2 separate regions of the Homo sapiens genome follow, and region 2 is linked to region 1. The links come from fine-mapping of genetic effects on gene expression. Tissue or cell type: whole blood. Region 1 holds a variant in brackets; the other region holds the start of a gene. All regions are shown on one strand. Distances are from middle to middle.

What was found. PIP is the estimated chance that this variant, and not a neighbour inherited with it, causes the effect.
Region 2: it holds the start of ZNF48, and the variant in region 1 is fine-mapped to the expression of ZNF48 in whole blood (TOPMed, PIP 0.95).

Annotation. Positions count from the first base shown.
Region 1 is chr16:30,320,104-30,328,206 of GRCh38, forward strand. It overlaps the pseudogene SMG1P5. Among named protein-coding and RNA genes, the nearest start is that of CD2BP2, 31 kb to the right of the region's middle. RefSeq lists a silencer at 4,947-4,996. The variant T/C (reference allele first, on the strand shown) is at 3,471.
Region 2 is chr16:30,390,866-30,398,968 of GRCh38, forward strand. It overlaps ZNF48 (zinc finger protein 48), which reads left to right and starts at 4,555. Exons shown (of 3, transcript NM_001214909.2): 1 at 4,555-4,713; 2 at 4,915-5,008; 3 at 6,465-8,103. The coding sequence starts at 4,930. RefSeq lists enhancers at 2,475-2,975, 4,977-5,573, 7,908-8,103 and silencers at 4,467-4,656, 4,747-5,006.

The DNA of each region.
Region 1 (8,103 bases):
TAGATTATGTTTGCTGGCTTATCATTTCAACTAGTAACAAATTCTTAAGGTGTGAATACAAGATATGGAGAAAAAATGATGATGCAGAGCTATGCTGAAATTTCTTATCGTTCAACTTGAAATAGGTTTACAGCCTAATGGGACTATACTAGAAAGTGTAGAAAGAGGGCAGGCACGGTGGCTCACACCTGTAATCCCAGCACTTTGGGAGACAGAGGTGAATGGATCACAAGGTCAGGAGTTCAAGACCAGCCTGGCCAACAAGGTGAAACCCCGCCTCTACTAAAAATACAAAAAAAAAATTAGCTGGGTGCGGTGGCACATGCCTGTAATCCCATCTACTCAGGAGGCTGAGGCAGGATAATCGCTTGAACCCGGGTGGCGGAGGTTGCAGTGAGCTGAGATCGCACCATTGCACTCCAGCCTGGGGGACAGAGCGAGACTCCGTCTCAAAAAAAAAAAAAAAAAGGAAAAAAGAAAAAAAGAAAATGTAGAAAGAGAGCCACTCCACTGCAGAGCAATTAATTCTATCTCCACTAATATTTTTCTAAATATTCACTGGAACAGTTTTAAAAATAATTTCCTGAACTTTAACCCTCCCAACGTCTTCAAAAGGCAAAAATTACCCCCTCAGAGGGACACAGCTGGTAGTGCCAATACAGAAGATCTTTGTCTTCCCATTCTTAGTCCATAGCTTTTTTCATGACACCAGCCTCTCCTAAGATAAATATCTGTGAAGGATCAACTTTTTAAAATACACACATTCTAGCTGGGCACGGTGGCTCACATCTGTAATCCCAGAACTTTGGGAGGCTGAGGCGGACGTATCACCTGAGGTCAGGAGTTTGAGACCAGCCTGGTCAACACGGTGAAACCCGTCTCTACTAAAAATACAAAAATTAGCCAGGCGTGGTGGCATGCACCTGTAATCCCAGCTACATGGGAGGCTGAGGCAGGAGAATCGCTTGAACCCGGGAGGTGGAGATTGCAGTGAGCCAAGATGGTGCCAACTGCACTCCAGCCTGGGCAACAGAGCAAGACGCCGTCTCAAAAAAAAAAAAAAAAAATACATTCTTAAAAATAAAGACACTTAGAGAGGAATCTAAAACACACTGGTTCTATTTTTATGCTAAGACAGCAGGTGGATTTTTTTTTTTTTTTGGAAAAAGAAAAGGGAACAAATTTCACATAGGAGAAGAGTTTTTGAAATCTTTGCACAACAGGGTGGCCATAGTAAATAATGATGTATTTATTTGCAAAGAGAAGACACAGATAACAATAGCAATAATAATAATGTATTTCAAACAATTAAGAGTAAATTTCAAATGCCTCACCACAAAATATAAGTAAGCAAAGTAAGGCGATAGTATGTTAATTAGCATGATTTAATCATACTACATTACACACATATATATAAACATTACGTTGTACCCTATGTGTACAATTATGATTTCTGAATTAATATTAGAGTGGGGAGAACAATGATTAATTTTTACTTCTTCAGTAAGATTACAATGAAAATGTAGAGAGCACTAGCATTATAGTAACTATACGATAGGCCACTTTAAATAAAAGGCATCTTTTACAAAATTTTTAGTCAATAAATTGATTACCACATACTTACGACCTATTTGCTATTAAGTGTAATTTATAATTCTAGTATTTTCAAAAAAGGAACATATTAAAATCCTATCAATATTTCAAATAATGACAGAATTAATCATTTTTAATAGAATCCTTACTCAGGTCCTTCAAAAACAATATAAACTATGACTTAAGGTAGATTCCTTTAAATCTGACTAATGAATAAATGTTAAATCTCAAATTTCATAGTCCCAGTGCTGGAAAACCTATATTTTTATTTTTCTTCACGTTTATACAAAGAACGTACAGACAGGCAAGAAATGTAATCAACCTTTTTAGGAAAGAATCCCAGGATTTGCTTTCTTTTCAATTAAATATATATGAATTCTGGGGGATACTGGTGATCATCTCTGGATCTTTTTACTCATCTAATGAGAAAAGAGTCTCATTATACAAAGAGGATAGTCAAAAAGCCTAATGATTTCCTCACATAAGTAGATTTTTCTGTCTGGCAAATCTGAAGAAGTCAACATAGAATCTGTCATTAATGCATTGAATCTGAACTTCCACTATTCAAATCAAATTAGGACCTGGAAATAAAGTGTTAACACTTCAGACAAGAAATTCCAGGGTTTGTATCATCAGGAATATAAACCAGGGACACTCTCAAGAGGCTGAAGAGCAAGAGTCATGCACTGCTTCAGAGAATTAAATACTCCAAGATGAAAGTTAAAATTTCAAACACACATATCACACATACACATCTTTTAACATCAGGTTGAAATGCTAAAGGGAACAGAGTAAAGGTATGTTTTCAATTAATAAATTTAAATGAGAGAAAACTTTAAATTCAAAGAGCTTCAGTAAAAAAAAAAAAAATATTAGCAATGTTATCAAATGTGGACGAAAAGCTAATATATGTCACTATGTAATCCAAGACATATTCATTAGTGGCGCCTTTTTTCTGGGCTATTAATATATTAGATGCCATCCAAAAACAAATATCTAGTAAATATTAAGTTTAACGACTTCTTAAAAACCTGTAGGTTCCCAAAGACATATACATGTATGTGCAGTGAGGCCACTGCTAAGCCTCTAACAATATTCTTGTAGACTACTAAAGTTCTCTATGATGATAAAAAGCGTGATAAAAAAAATCTAGTGTCTCCCCTTAATAAACAAAGAACGAGCATAACTTAGGAAGTTCGGTAACAAAAACAATCTATAATTCTGGTACCAGAAATCCCTCTGAGGCTGGGCGAGGTGGCTTACACCTGTAATCCCAGCACTTTGGGAAGCCAAGGCAGGGGGGATCACCTGAGGTCCGAAGATGAAGAACATCCTGGCTAACAGGGTGAAACCCTGTCTCTACTAAAAATACAAAAAATTAGCCAGGCGAGTGGCACATGCCTGTAATCCCAGCTACTCAGGAGGCCAAGGCAGGAGAATCACTTGAACCCAGGAGGTAGAGGTTGCGTGAGCCTAGATCGTGCCCTTGCACTCCAGCCTGGGCAACAAGAGCAAAACTCCATCTCAAAAAAAAAAAAAAAAAGCAACAAGTCCCTCTGAAAAAAGTTTTAAATAATAAACAAAAAAGTCTATAACAGGTTTTTAAATAACTATAAAGTCCTACACATATTATATGAATGCCAACATAATAATATGAATATGAATATCAACAGGGTATCCAAATCCTTTTTTGAAAAGGTCTGAAAATTAATATGAAAGAAGTAATTCAGTATGTTCAGAAATCTGTTGATTCTAGGCCAGGTATGGTAGCTCACACCTGTTATCCCAGCACTTTGGGATTTACAAAATGGCATTTCCTCCTCACCTAAGGTCAGGAGTTCAAGACCAGCCTGGCCAAGATGGTGAAACCCCATCTC[T/C]ACTAAAAACTACAAAAATTAGCCAGGCGTGGTGGCAGTCGCCTGTAATCCCAGCTACTCAGGAGGCTGAGGTAGGAGAATCACTTGAACCCGGGCGGCAGAGTTTGCAGTGAGCCAAGATCTCACCACTGCACTCCAGCCTGGGTGACAAATAAAATAAAATAAAGAAATCTGTTGATTCTGGAATATTTGCGTTTCATTCCCCAATCAGCAGGCATGCAATTGGCAAGAAGTGTGTTTCCCCAGGCATTCTAATGGGATGCCAGAAGGCTCAACCCAGTGCTTAAATTTTTAGTGATTACATTGCTTAAATAATGTAGACAGATACAATAGACTCAAAATAAATCAATGTGTAAAAAGACTTTAAATATGTGCACAAGGTATTTTTCAAGATGGATAAAACATATGAATCTTAAATTACCATATTCTTTTATTTTTTATTTTTTCTGAGACAGAGGTTTTCCTCTTGCTGCCCAGGCTGGAGTGCAACAGCATCATCTCCACTCACTGCAACCTCCGCCTCCCAAGTTCAAGCAATTCTCCTGCCTCAGCCTCCTGAATAGCTGGGACTACAGGCGTGTGCCACCATGCCCAGCTAATTTTTGTATATTTTTTAGTCGAGATGGGGTTTCACCATGTTGGCCAGGATGGTCTTGATCCCTTGACCTCATGATCCGCCCACCTCGGCCTCCCAAAGTGCTGAGATTACAGGTATGAGCCACTGCGCGTGGCCAAATTACCGTATTCTTTCTTCTGTAGAAAGATCTGGCCACTCCAGTCCATTACGATACTGTCCTTTTGAGCCTGCTCAATCAGTTTGTTTAAGCCCTGCCTCAGGCCAACAAGGCTGCCATAAGAGGAATGCTTTCCCCAAAAAAACATCCTACAAGAACAGTGTTGCAATCTCTGGAGTTAACACTTAATATAAAAACACAAACTTGCAGGATCTCATTTTCATGTATTTACTTGAGGAAAGACACAAATATAGAGTGGATGCTATTTATTGATGCACTTAGTAGGAAAGAAGGGGATAGCAAAAGTAACAATTTTACCAGATCCATGCACATATGCAGGTTGTATTTTACTGGAGATGGCACACATAAAAATTCCAGATAGTGGTAAGGATATGAAAAAAAGTGGCAGGAATGGGTGTGATAGTGAAAAAGTCACTGCATATCTGTACCTTGACTGAGGTCATGGTTACACAGGTGTATACATTTGTCAAAATTTACTGAATTTAAGACCTATACAGGCCGGGCGTGGTGGCTCACGCCTGTAATCCCAGCACTTTGGGAGGCCGAGGCGGATGGGTCACCTGAGGTCAGGAGTTCCAGACCAGCCTGGCCAACATGGTGAAACCCCATCTCTACTAAAAGTGCAAAAACTAGCCAGGCGTGGTGGCAGGCATCTGTAATCACAGCTACTTGGGGCGCTGAGGCAAGAGAATCACTTGAACCCGGGAGGCGGAGGTTGCGGTGAGTCGTGATCGCACCATTGCACTCCAGTCTGGGGGATAAGAGCGAGACTTCATCTCAAAAGAAAAAAAGAAAAAAAGAAAAAACACCACCACCTATACATACATAAATTTTATCTCAAAGAAGCACCACAATAGAATTCAAAAACGAATTCAATTTAAAAAGGAAAAGTACACTCGATTAATACAAGATGGAAAAGAATAACATTATAAAACCAAGTATCTCTGCATGAGCGAACTCCACAAGAATTTAGTAAGTTATACTCTACATTAAAAAAAAAACAAAAAACAAAAACTCAGAATAAGGGAGCATTTCCTATACATATGAAACCACAAAATTTCTGTACTCTTTACTGTTAGGCCTCTATACAAGGGGAAGTATGTTTCATTTTATAGTTCCAAAAATAAAATGGGCTCTGAAAAACTTCAAGATAGTCAAAGACAGGTAACCAAAATGATGACAATGTGAAAAGATTAACAAACAACAGCTCCTCTAAATCATTAAGGGTGGTCCAATGAAAGGAGCCTCAGGGATTTGTTTTAGGCGATTAGGATAAGGAACAAGAGCCAGGTAACAAAGGCAGAAAATCCTAAAGAATTTAACAATTCAATGTTCCCAACAGACACCATGGACCACACTCCATTTTATATGACACTTAAATGACATTCCATACATGTGTCTAACATGAAGATTGAGCAGATAAAAGGTATCACTTTAGTAATCATCCTCAATCAACACCAGATAACAAATGAGGGGCTTTTGCTTATGGAAATTCTCACATATTGAGCTGAACACTTTTACCTTAATTAATTAATTAATTTATTTATTTATTATTATTTTTTTTTTTTTTTTGAGACGGAGTCTCGCTCTGTCGCCCAGGCTGGAGTGCAGTGGCGGGATCTCGGCTCACTGCAAGCTCCGCCTCCCGGGTTCACGCCATTCTCCTGCCTCAGCCTCCCAAGTAGCTGGGACGACAGGCGCCCGCCACTACGCCCGGCTAATTTTTTTGTATTTTTAGTAGAGACGGGGTTTCACCGTTTTAGCCGGGATGGTCTCGATCTCCTGACCTCGTGATCCGCCCGCCTCGGCCTCCCAAAGTGCTGGGATTACAGGCGTGAGCCACCGCGCCCGGCCAATTAATTTATTTTTTGAGACAGAGTTTCGCTCCTGCTGCCCAGGCTGGAGTGCAATGGCTCGATCTCGGCTCACCACAACCTCCGTCTCCCGGATTCACGTGATTCTCCTGCCTCAGCCTCCCAAGTAGCTGGGATTACAGGCATATGCCACCACGCCCGGCTAATTTTTGTATTTTTAGTAGACACGGGGTTTCTCCACGTTGGTCAGGCTGGTCTCTCCCAACCTCAGGTGATCCACCCACCTTGGCCTCCCAAAGTGCTGGGATTACAGGTGTGAGCCACCATACACAGCCTTATCTTAATTTAAATTGTTAAATATAAACATAATACTCAGGTCCTTAGCAGCCCCTTCTCTATATTGTTCCAATTAACTGCCTCCCACTGCGATCTCTCCTGCACGTGTGTGCACGCACTCTAACACACACACTCCTTTTTTTTTTTTTAGACGGAGTCTTGCTCTTGTTGCCCAGGCTGGAGTGCAACGGCGCAATCTCAGCTCACCACAACCTCGGCCTCCGAGGTTCCAGCAATTCTCCTGCCTCAGCCTCCCGAGTAGCTGGGAATACAGGCATGCACCACCACACTCGGCTAATTTTGTATTTTTAGTAGAGACGGGGTTTCTCCATGTTGGTCAGGCTAGTCTCGAACTCCCGACCTCAGGAGATCCACCCACCTCAGCCTCCCAAACTGCTGGGATTACAGGCATGAGCCACCACGGCCAGCCCACACACTTTTTCAAGAAGCAACTAGATTTAATCTTCCTAAATTGTGCCACTTTCCGGCAGGTAAAATTTCAATGATTCCCTAAAGTCACTCCAAATACACTTAAACTGGGCCAGGGTGGTGGCTCACGCCTGTAATCCCAGCACTTTGGGAGGCCGAGATGGGTGGATCACCTGAGGTCATGAGTTCAAGACAAGCCTGACCAACATGGTGAAACCCCGTCTCTAGTAAATACAAAAAATTAGCCAGGTGTGGTGGTGCGTGCCTGTAATCCCTAGAGCTACTTGGGAGGCTGAGGAAGGAGAACTGCTTGAACCCGGGAGGCGGAGGTTGCAGTGAGCCAAAATGGCACCATTGTGCTCCAGCCTGGGCAACAAGAGCAAAAACTCTGTCTCCAAAAACAAACAAACAAACAAACAAACAAAAAAACACCTGAACTATGATTAAAGGTCTACAATAGGGTCCCCAACCCAGTGCTTCAGCTTCACCTCTTATTTGTATTACTCCTCATAAGTACCCAATTCCTCTACACACTGACAATTTGCACCTGGCCTTATCCTAATTTTCTTCTATTTTGGGGGGGATTCTCCCCCAAATTCACAGTGAAAATTGTACAGACCAATTCCATCACCCCATTTCCCTCCTCTAACCCTCCAGGTTTTTGTTTTTGTTTTTGAGACAGTCTCACTCTGTCACCCAAATTGGAGTGCAATGGCATGATCTTGGCTCACTGCAACCTCCACCTCCTGGGTTCAAGCGATTCTCCTGCCTCAGTCTCCCAAGTAGCTGGGATTACAGGCGCCCACCACTGCATCCAGCTAATTTTTGTATTTTTAGTAGAGACGGGGTTTCACCATGTTGGCCTGTAACCCCAGCACTTTGGGAGGTCAAGGCGGGCAGATCACCTGAGGTTAGGAGTTTAAGACCAGACTGGCCAACCTGGCGAAACCCTGTCAATCATGCCACTGCACTCCAGCCTAAGTGACAGAGCAAGACTGTCTCAAAAAAAAAAGAAAGAAAGGAAGGAAGGAAGGTATACTGAGAATTACATCACAAAATCCACATGCTCTCCCCTTTACAAAGCCCTTTACTTTTCTCCCATAATAACTTATAGCCTCCTTGAAGACAGTGGTTTTACAAGTCATAAAAATCCTGGCCATGGCCCAGTGCAGTAGCTTGTGCCTGTAATCCCAGCACTTTGGGAGGCCAAGACAGGCAGATCACTTGAGGTCAGAAGTTCGAGACCAGCCTGGTCGACATGGTGAAACCCCGTCTCTACTAAAAATACAAAAATTACCC
Region 2 (8,103 bases), 71 kb after region 1:
TGCCCACCTCAGCCTCCCAAAGTGCTGGGATTACAGGCGTGAGCCACCGCGCCTGGCCAGAGACAGGGTTTCAATGTGTTAGCCAGGATGGTCTCGATCTCCTGACCTCGTGATCTGCCCACCTTGACCTCCCAAAGTGCTGGGATTAGAGGCGTGAGCCACTGCGCCCGGCCGAATAAACTTACATTCTATCTTCATCTTTCACTGCTTTCCTAATATGTAAACTCACGGCACATTAAAACGGAACTATTCTCTATTTTCCTCTCTGAAGATAGGTCGTAATCCATAGTCATCTTTGGATCTCAAGCTTCTAGCACACATTAGGTTTTCTTTTATTTTTATTTTTTGAGACGGAGTCTCACTCTGTCGCCCAGGCTGGAGTGCAGTGATCTCTGCTCACTGAAACCTCTGCCTCCCGGGTTCAAATGATTCTCCTGCCTCAGCCTCCTGAGTAGCTGGGATTACAGGTGAGCACCACCACCTCCAGCTAATTTTTTTATTTTTAGTAGAGACAGGTTTTCACCATGTTGGTCAGGCTGGTCTCCAACCCCTGACCTCATGATCCGCCCGCCTCAGCCTACCAAAGTGCTGGGATTACAGGCGTGAGCCACTGCTCCTGGCAGTCTTTTTCTTTTCTTTTTTTTTTTTTAAACAGAGTTTTGTTCTGTTGCCCAGAACGGAATGCAGTGGTGTGATCTCAGCTCACTGCAACCTCCGGCTCGCGAGTTCAAGCGATTCTCCTGCCTCCGCCTCCCGAGTAGCTGGGATTACAGGCGCGTACCACCACATCTGGCTAATTTTTGTATTTTTTAGTAGAGATGGGGTTTCACCATGTTGGCCAAACTGGTCTCGAACTCCTGACCTCAGGTGATTCACCTGCCTCAGCCTCCCAAAGTGTGGGGATTATAGGCGTGAGCCACTGATTCCAGCCTAAGGTTTTCTTTCTCTTTCCTTTTCTTTCTCCTTTTTTTTTGGCGGGGGGGTGGGGGTGGGATAGGGTCTTGCTCTGTCACCCAGGCTGGAGTGCAGTGGCATGATCTCAGCTCCCTGCAACTTTCACCTCCCGCGCCCAAGAGATCCTCTCACCTCAGCCTCCCAAGTAGCTGGGACTACAGGTGTGCACCACCACTCCCAGCTAACTTTTTTGTATCTTTTTATTTATTTTATTTTTTCCTGAGGCGGCGTATCGCTCTGTCGCCCAGGCTGGAGCGCAGTGGCGCGATCTCGGCTAACTGGAAGCTCCGCCTCCCAGGTTCACGCCATTCTCCTGCTTCAGCCTCCTGAGTATCTGGGACTACAGGCGCCTGCCACCACGCCCATCTAATTTTTTTGTATTTTTAGTAGAGACGGGGTTTCACTGTGTTAGCCAGGATGGTCTCAATCTTCTGACCTCGTGATCCACCCACATCGGCATCCCAAAGTGCTGGGATTACAGGAGTGAGCCACCGCCCCCGGCCCTGTATCTTTTTAGAGATGGGTTTTCACCATGTTGGCCAGGCTGGTCTCAAACTGCTGGACTCAAGAGACCTGCCCACCTCAGCCTCCCGAGGTGTTGGGATTACAGGCGTGAGCCACCATGCCTGGCCCATATTAGGTTTTCAATTAGTATGTGGCCCACTGTTTATTCAGCCCCCACTGCCTGGAGTTGTTCATTCAGCCCCCACTCCAGGCAGAGTCTGGACTTTGCCGAAATCAAACCAATTAGAGTAATAGCTGATACTTTTGCTAAGTGCTTTACACATATTCATCCTCAACCATCAAAGTTAGCTGTTATCATCCCTATTTTACAGTTTGGGAAACAGAAGCTTAAGTAACTTCCCTAAAGTCAAGTAGCAATTAAGTGACAAAGGCCAAGAACCACACTCTGCATAAATGGCTTTAAAGACAGTATCTGCACCCACTGAACACTACAGAAGGTATCTCTGTGCGCTACACTCCTATAAAATTTTGTCCATACAGTCAATATAGAACCTGTCACACCATCTGACAACTCCATATCCTATTGGGCCAAGAGCTCCCTGAAGAGTTTCTTTATTTCCAGGGCCTAGGACAGTGTTTAGGTATTAGCTAGTGATCAATAGGTATGTGTTGATTTCTGGTCCCTGTTTCTGTCAGTGCTAACATCCATGCATGCCAGGCACACAGAGATTCATTACTACAAACTAGAACCCTTCCTGTTCTCCCACACTATCGTGAATTGGTCCATATAACTCTTTTTTTTTTTTCTTGAGATGAAGTCTCGCTCTTGTCCCCCAGGCTGGAGTGCAATGGCGCGATCTCAGCTCACTGCAACCTCCGCCTCTGGGGTTCAAGTGATTCTCCTGCCTCAGCCTCCCAAGTAGCTGGGATTACAGGCGCCTGCCACCACGCCCTGCTAATTTTTTTATTTTTAGTAGAGATGGGGTTTCACCATGTTGGCCAGGCTGGTCTGGAACTCCTGACCTCAAGTGAGCTCCTGCCTCTGGCTCCCAAAGGGCTGGGATTACAGGTGTGAGGCACCACACCCGGCCTTTTAAATTTTATTTATTTATTTTTTTGAGACGCAGTCTGACTCTGTCACCCAGGCTGGAATGCAGTGGCGTGATCTCGGCTCTTTCCAACCTCCGCCTCTCAGGTTCAAGTGATACTCCTGCCTCAGCCTCCTGAGTAGCTGGGATTACAGGCCCGTGCCACCACGCCCTGCTAAGTTTTGTATTTTTAGTAGAGACAGGGTTTCACCATGTTGGCCAGATTGGTCTCAAACTCCTGACCTCATGTAATTCACCTGCCTCGGCCTCCCAAAGTGTTGGGATTACAGGTGTGAGCCACTGCACCTGGCCGGGTCCATATAACTACCTTAACAGTCTCTCTTTCTTTCTCTTTTTTTTTTAGATGGGGTCTCGCTCTATTACCCAGGCTGAAGGGCAGTGTCACAAATATGGTTTACTGCAGCCTCAACCTCCTGGGCTCAGGTGATCCTCCTGCCTCAGTCTCCAGTGTAGCCAGGACCACAGATATGTGCTACCATGCGCTGCTAAATTTTTGTTTTTTTTTTGTAGAGACAAGGTCCACTTTTTTGCCTAGGCTGGTTTCGAACTAGTGGCCTCAAGTGATCCTCCCACCTTGGCCTCCCAAAGTGCTGGGATTACAGGCATGAGCCACTGGGCCCAGCCCATTCTCTCTCTCTTTTTTTTTTTTTTTAAAGAGACAGGGTCTCGCTCTGTTGCCCAGCATGGAGTACAGTGGCACGATCCACGATCATGGCTCACTGCATCCTTGAATGCCCAGGTTCAGGGAATCCTCTCAGCTGGGATTACAGGGGCAGGCCACCAGGCCCAGCTAAATTCTCTAATTTCAGTGATTTGTGTACTTGCTCCTTTAGACTGGTAGCTCTCCAAGGACAAATCTTGCAGGTGTTTCAACTTTTTATCCCCAACTCTTGGCTTAGCACTAAGATGCTAATAAATGTGAATTAATGCATAAACCACAGTTACCCCCACCATCATTGGCAGAGGGGCTGAAGACACCTCCAGACACTCTCTCCACCCCAAAACCAAGCCCGCCCAGAGAGCGGATACTGGGATCTTGCTCCTAGGGCCTGGGAACCTGGAAACACAGCTCCAGCCAGGGGCCCACCAGGATGGGAAACAGGGCTTGTTCTTCAGCCTCTCCCTGAGCCTGGCCTCTATAGGGCTGCCGACCTGTCCGGAGTCTTTCTGGCCGCCTCTTTCTTTGTGTCTCTTTCTCTTTGTCTCTGCCCGTTTCGCTCACTATCGTCTTTTGTTCCTCTGCTTCTGGGCCTGTTACTCTCCAGGCTCCCAGCCTCTTACTGCTCCTCGGACTCTGCGTCAATGACTTTATCTCTTATCCGTTTCTACGTCTCTGTCTCTAGCGGCTAATCTTTGGCTCCCCTTATTTTTGGTCAGCCGCTGTCCCTCGGTCTCTCTCTGCCTTTGCGTCCTCTGTGACTCAGGGCTCTGATGTGAGTCTCTGGCTCAGGGTCTCTGTTCCGGGCCCCAGGTCTGATTCCATCTCTCCAGCAGCATTTACCCGGTGTCTGCCTCTAGCCTCTGCTCCTGCCTCGGTCTCCCCAGCCCAGCCCCCATTCCATACCCACCCCCACCCCGGGCCCTCGGCCTCTCGGACCAGCCCCGCTTTGTTTCCCACGTCTCGGCGCCCCGCCCCGCCCCGTCTGGGGTCTCCGCCGCCCTTTGTCTGCCTTGGTCTCTCCCCCACCCCTTTCCCCGGGTCCGTCTTTGGATCCCTCTTTCTTTGTCTCTCCCAGGTCGGAGTGGCTGGCGCTGTCGGCCGGCCGGGGAGGTCGGCGCGGGTGGCTGGAGACACACAGCCACAATTACGAAGAGCCTCGGGCCTCACCACCCAGCTGCAGCCCAGGAGGCACACGGTTAATACCACCGAGTTCGGGCCGCCGGCCTCGGCTTAGAGTAGCCCCTGGGCCGCACGCTGCCGCCCGCCGGCCACAGAGCTACCGCCGACGCGGGCGACCCCCACAGGCCCGCAGCTCCTCCAAGGTCCTAGAGCGGCTCCGTGCGGCCCCGCGCTTCCGCTTCCCGTCCCCGCCCCCGGTGGCCGCCCCCGGGACGCCTGGGTCCGAGCCCGCTCCCGGCTTGGCGCGGAGCCTGCATCCCGGAGCCGCTGGCGGCTCGGGCGCCTGCACCCCGCTGAGGAGCTCCGGAGGGCGCCGGGGTGGCGGAGCCGGAGGCGGCCGGCAAGGTGAGAGCGGCGGCTGCGCGCTGGGAGGAGCAGCAGGTGCAGGGGCGGCCGGCGGCGCGGGCAGGGGGCACCGGGAGCCGCGCCCGTACCTGGGACCCGACGCCGCCCGGTGCCCGCGCTGGCCGGCAGAGGGCAGCGGCAGGGCGCCGCGGGCCACACATGGCTGCGTGACCGCGGGATGCTGTCTGTCCCCTTGCTCAGGGCGGCGTGCCGGCGATGGAGCGCGCGGTAGAGCCTTGGGGCCCAGATCTCCACCGCCCGGAGGAGAGGGAGCCACAGAGAGGCGCCCGCACAGGTGAGGGCCTCGGCCGTGCGCCGCCACGGACAGGTAACGGCCGGTGGGGACTGCGATGCTTGGCTGTGGCCGGCCGAGATCCTGGAAGATCGGACGTGAGCTGTGCCTCTGGGGAGATAGGGGGAGGGGAGCTTTCGGAGCACCAACTGTGCGCCAGGCCGGGAGGGGCTCTTCACGGCCTCTGTCCCCTCCCTCACGGCCTTCCTCATCCTTACTGCCTCTGCCCTACTTCAGGCTTCATTCTGTTTTATCCTGGCAATTGCAGTAGCCTCCTCTCTGCCCCTTTCTCTCCACTGATGCATTCTCTCGCCAGCTTGATCTAAGTCCAGATATAATCCTGTGTCTCTTCTGGAAAACCTTCCCTAGCGTCCCCCAGTCTCCTAATTAAAAGCCTTAGCTAGTGTCCAATCCAAACCGTGCGTGCTCAGGTTAGTCCCAACATCCTTTGACACCTTATCTTCCATTCCACTCCATTATTTTCTCTTCGCTCTGCCGTAATGCCGGTTCCTATTTCCTTATCTCCTATCTCTCTTGTGACAACATAGTTATTCTAGTTATTCTGCACCCACAATTATAACCATTGATACTTTAATCTTATCTCTCCTACCACCCTAAGCTTCTTGAGGAAGGGATGTGTGCCTGGGTCCTCTCAGGTACACACAGGATAACTGATGTAATAAATTACCGAATGGGCTAATATAATAAGATACAATAATAATAGCAAATACCAAGTTTTCCAAATAGACAATATAATGTAGGGATTAACACGGGCTTGAGTGTCAGAGAGACCTTAGTTAGACATCACGCTTTGCTACTTTTTTTTTTTTTTTTTTTTTTTGGCGACAGGGTCTCACTGTGTCACCCAGGCTAGAGTGGCACAATCACAGCTCACTGCAGCCTCCACCTCCTGGGCTCAAGTGATCCTCCTACCTCAGCCTCCCAGTAGCTGGGACTACAGGTGTGCACCACCATGCCCAGCTAATTTTTGTATTTTTTTTTGTAGAGTTAGGGTCTCACCATGTTGCCCAGGCTGGTTTCTAACTCCTGGGCTTAAGTGATCCACCCACCTCGGCCTCCCAAAGTGCTAGGATTACAGGTGTGAGCCACCCTGCTGGCCTGGCTTTGCTACTTTCTAACCTTTATAACCTCCAGCAAAAGGACTTAAATTCTCTGAGTCTTTCCATGCCTGTAATATGGGGATAGTCATAGTGTTATAGTATTGTTTGCAAGCGTTTAATACTAATGCTGAGTTTGGTGAATGACATACATTAAGGGCACAGTAAAAAGAAGTTTTTATTGAGAGGCACAGATAGTAAGTGCACCAGAGGTTGAGAGGACAGAGAGATTGGGGTTCCTGTGACCACAGATTGTCAAGGGAGTCTTCCTGGAGAGGTTGCTGTCAAAGATAAGTACCGAGCCAAAGGGGAGGGTCTACAACTTCCTTTTCTTTCCTCAGGTCTAGGGAGTGAGAACGTGATTTCTCAGCCGAATGAGTTTGAACATACCCCACAGGAAGATGACTTGGGGTTCAAGGAAGAAGATTTGGCTCCAGATCATGAAGTAGGAAATGCCTCTCTCAAACCTGAAGGCATCCAGAACTGGGATGACTTATGGGTCCAGAGAGAGGGTCTAGGAAAGCCTCAGCCTCGGGACAGAGGCCCCCGGCTCCTGGGTGAACCACGCTGGGGCCAGGCTAGTAGTGATCGGGCCGCTGTGTGTGGTGAGTGTGGCAAAAGCTTCAGGCAGATGTCAGATCTGGTGAAACACCAGCGGACCCACACAGGGGAGAAACCCTACAAGTGTGGGGTCTGTGGCAAGGGCTTTGGGGATAGCTCTGCCCGGATCAAACACCAGCGGACTCATAGTGGGGAGAAGCCCTATAGAGCCCGGCCACCAGCCCAGGGTCCCCCAAAGATTCCTCGGTCCCGGATCCCTGCTGGTGAGCGCCCCACTATCTGTGGTGAATGTGGCAAGAGCTTCCGGCAGAGTTCTGACCTGGTGAAACACCAGCGGACACACACTGGTGAGAAGCCCTACAAGTGTGGCATATGTGGCAAGGGCTTTGGCGACAGTTCCGCCCGCATCAAGCACCAGCGGACACACCGGGGGGAGCAGCCCCCCCGACCAGTGGTGCCCCGACGGCAGCCATCTCGGGCAGCCACGGCAGCTACCCAGGGACCGAAGGCCCAGGACAAGCCATATATCTGCACTGATTGCGGCAAGAGGTTTGTGCTCAGCTGCAGCCTCCTGAGTCACCAGCGTAGTCACTTGGGGCCCAAGCCCTTTGGCTGTGATGTGTGTGGAAAGGAGTTTGCCCGGGGATCCGACCTGGTGAAGCACCTGCGGGTGCACACGGGTGAGAAGCCCTACCTCTGCCCAGAGTGCGGCAAAGGTTTCGCGGACAGCTCCGCCCGAGTCAAACACCTCCGCACCCACAGTGGCGAGAGGCCCCATGCCTGCCCGGAATGCGACCGTACCTTCAGCCTCAGCTCCACCCTTCTTCGCCACCGCCTCACTCACATGGAGCCCCAGGACTTCAGCTTCCCAGGCTATCCCCTACCCGCTCTGATCCCCAGCCCACCCCCACCTCCTCTGGGCACCAGCCCCCCGCTGACACCTCGAAGTCCCTCACACTCGGGTGAGCCTTTTGGCCTGCCTGGCTTGGAGCCAGAGCCTGGGGGCCCACAGGCTGGGGAGCCACCCCCACCACTGGCGGGCGACAAGCCCCACAAGTGCCCTGAGTGTGGCAAGGGCTTCCGCCGAAGCTCTGACCTGGTGAAACACCATCGTGTGCACACAGGGGAGAAACCCTACCTCTGTCCTGAATGCGGCAAGGGTTTTGCTGACAGCTCAGCCCGAGTCAAGCACCTCCGCACCCACCGTGGTGAACGGGCCCGGCCACCACCACCATCCACTCTGCTGCGGCCACATAACCCACCTGGCCCAGTACCCATGGCCCCTCGACCCCGAGTTCGGGCCCAGCCTTCTGGACCCAGCCAGCCCCACGTGTGTGGCTTCTGTGGGAAGGAGTTCCCCCGGAGCTCAGATCTGGTCAAACACAGGCGTACACACACGGGGGAGAAGCCATACAAGTG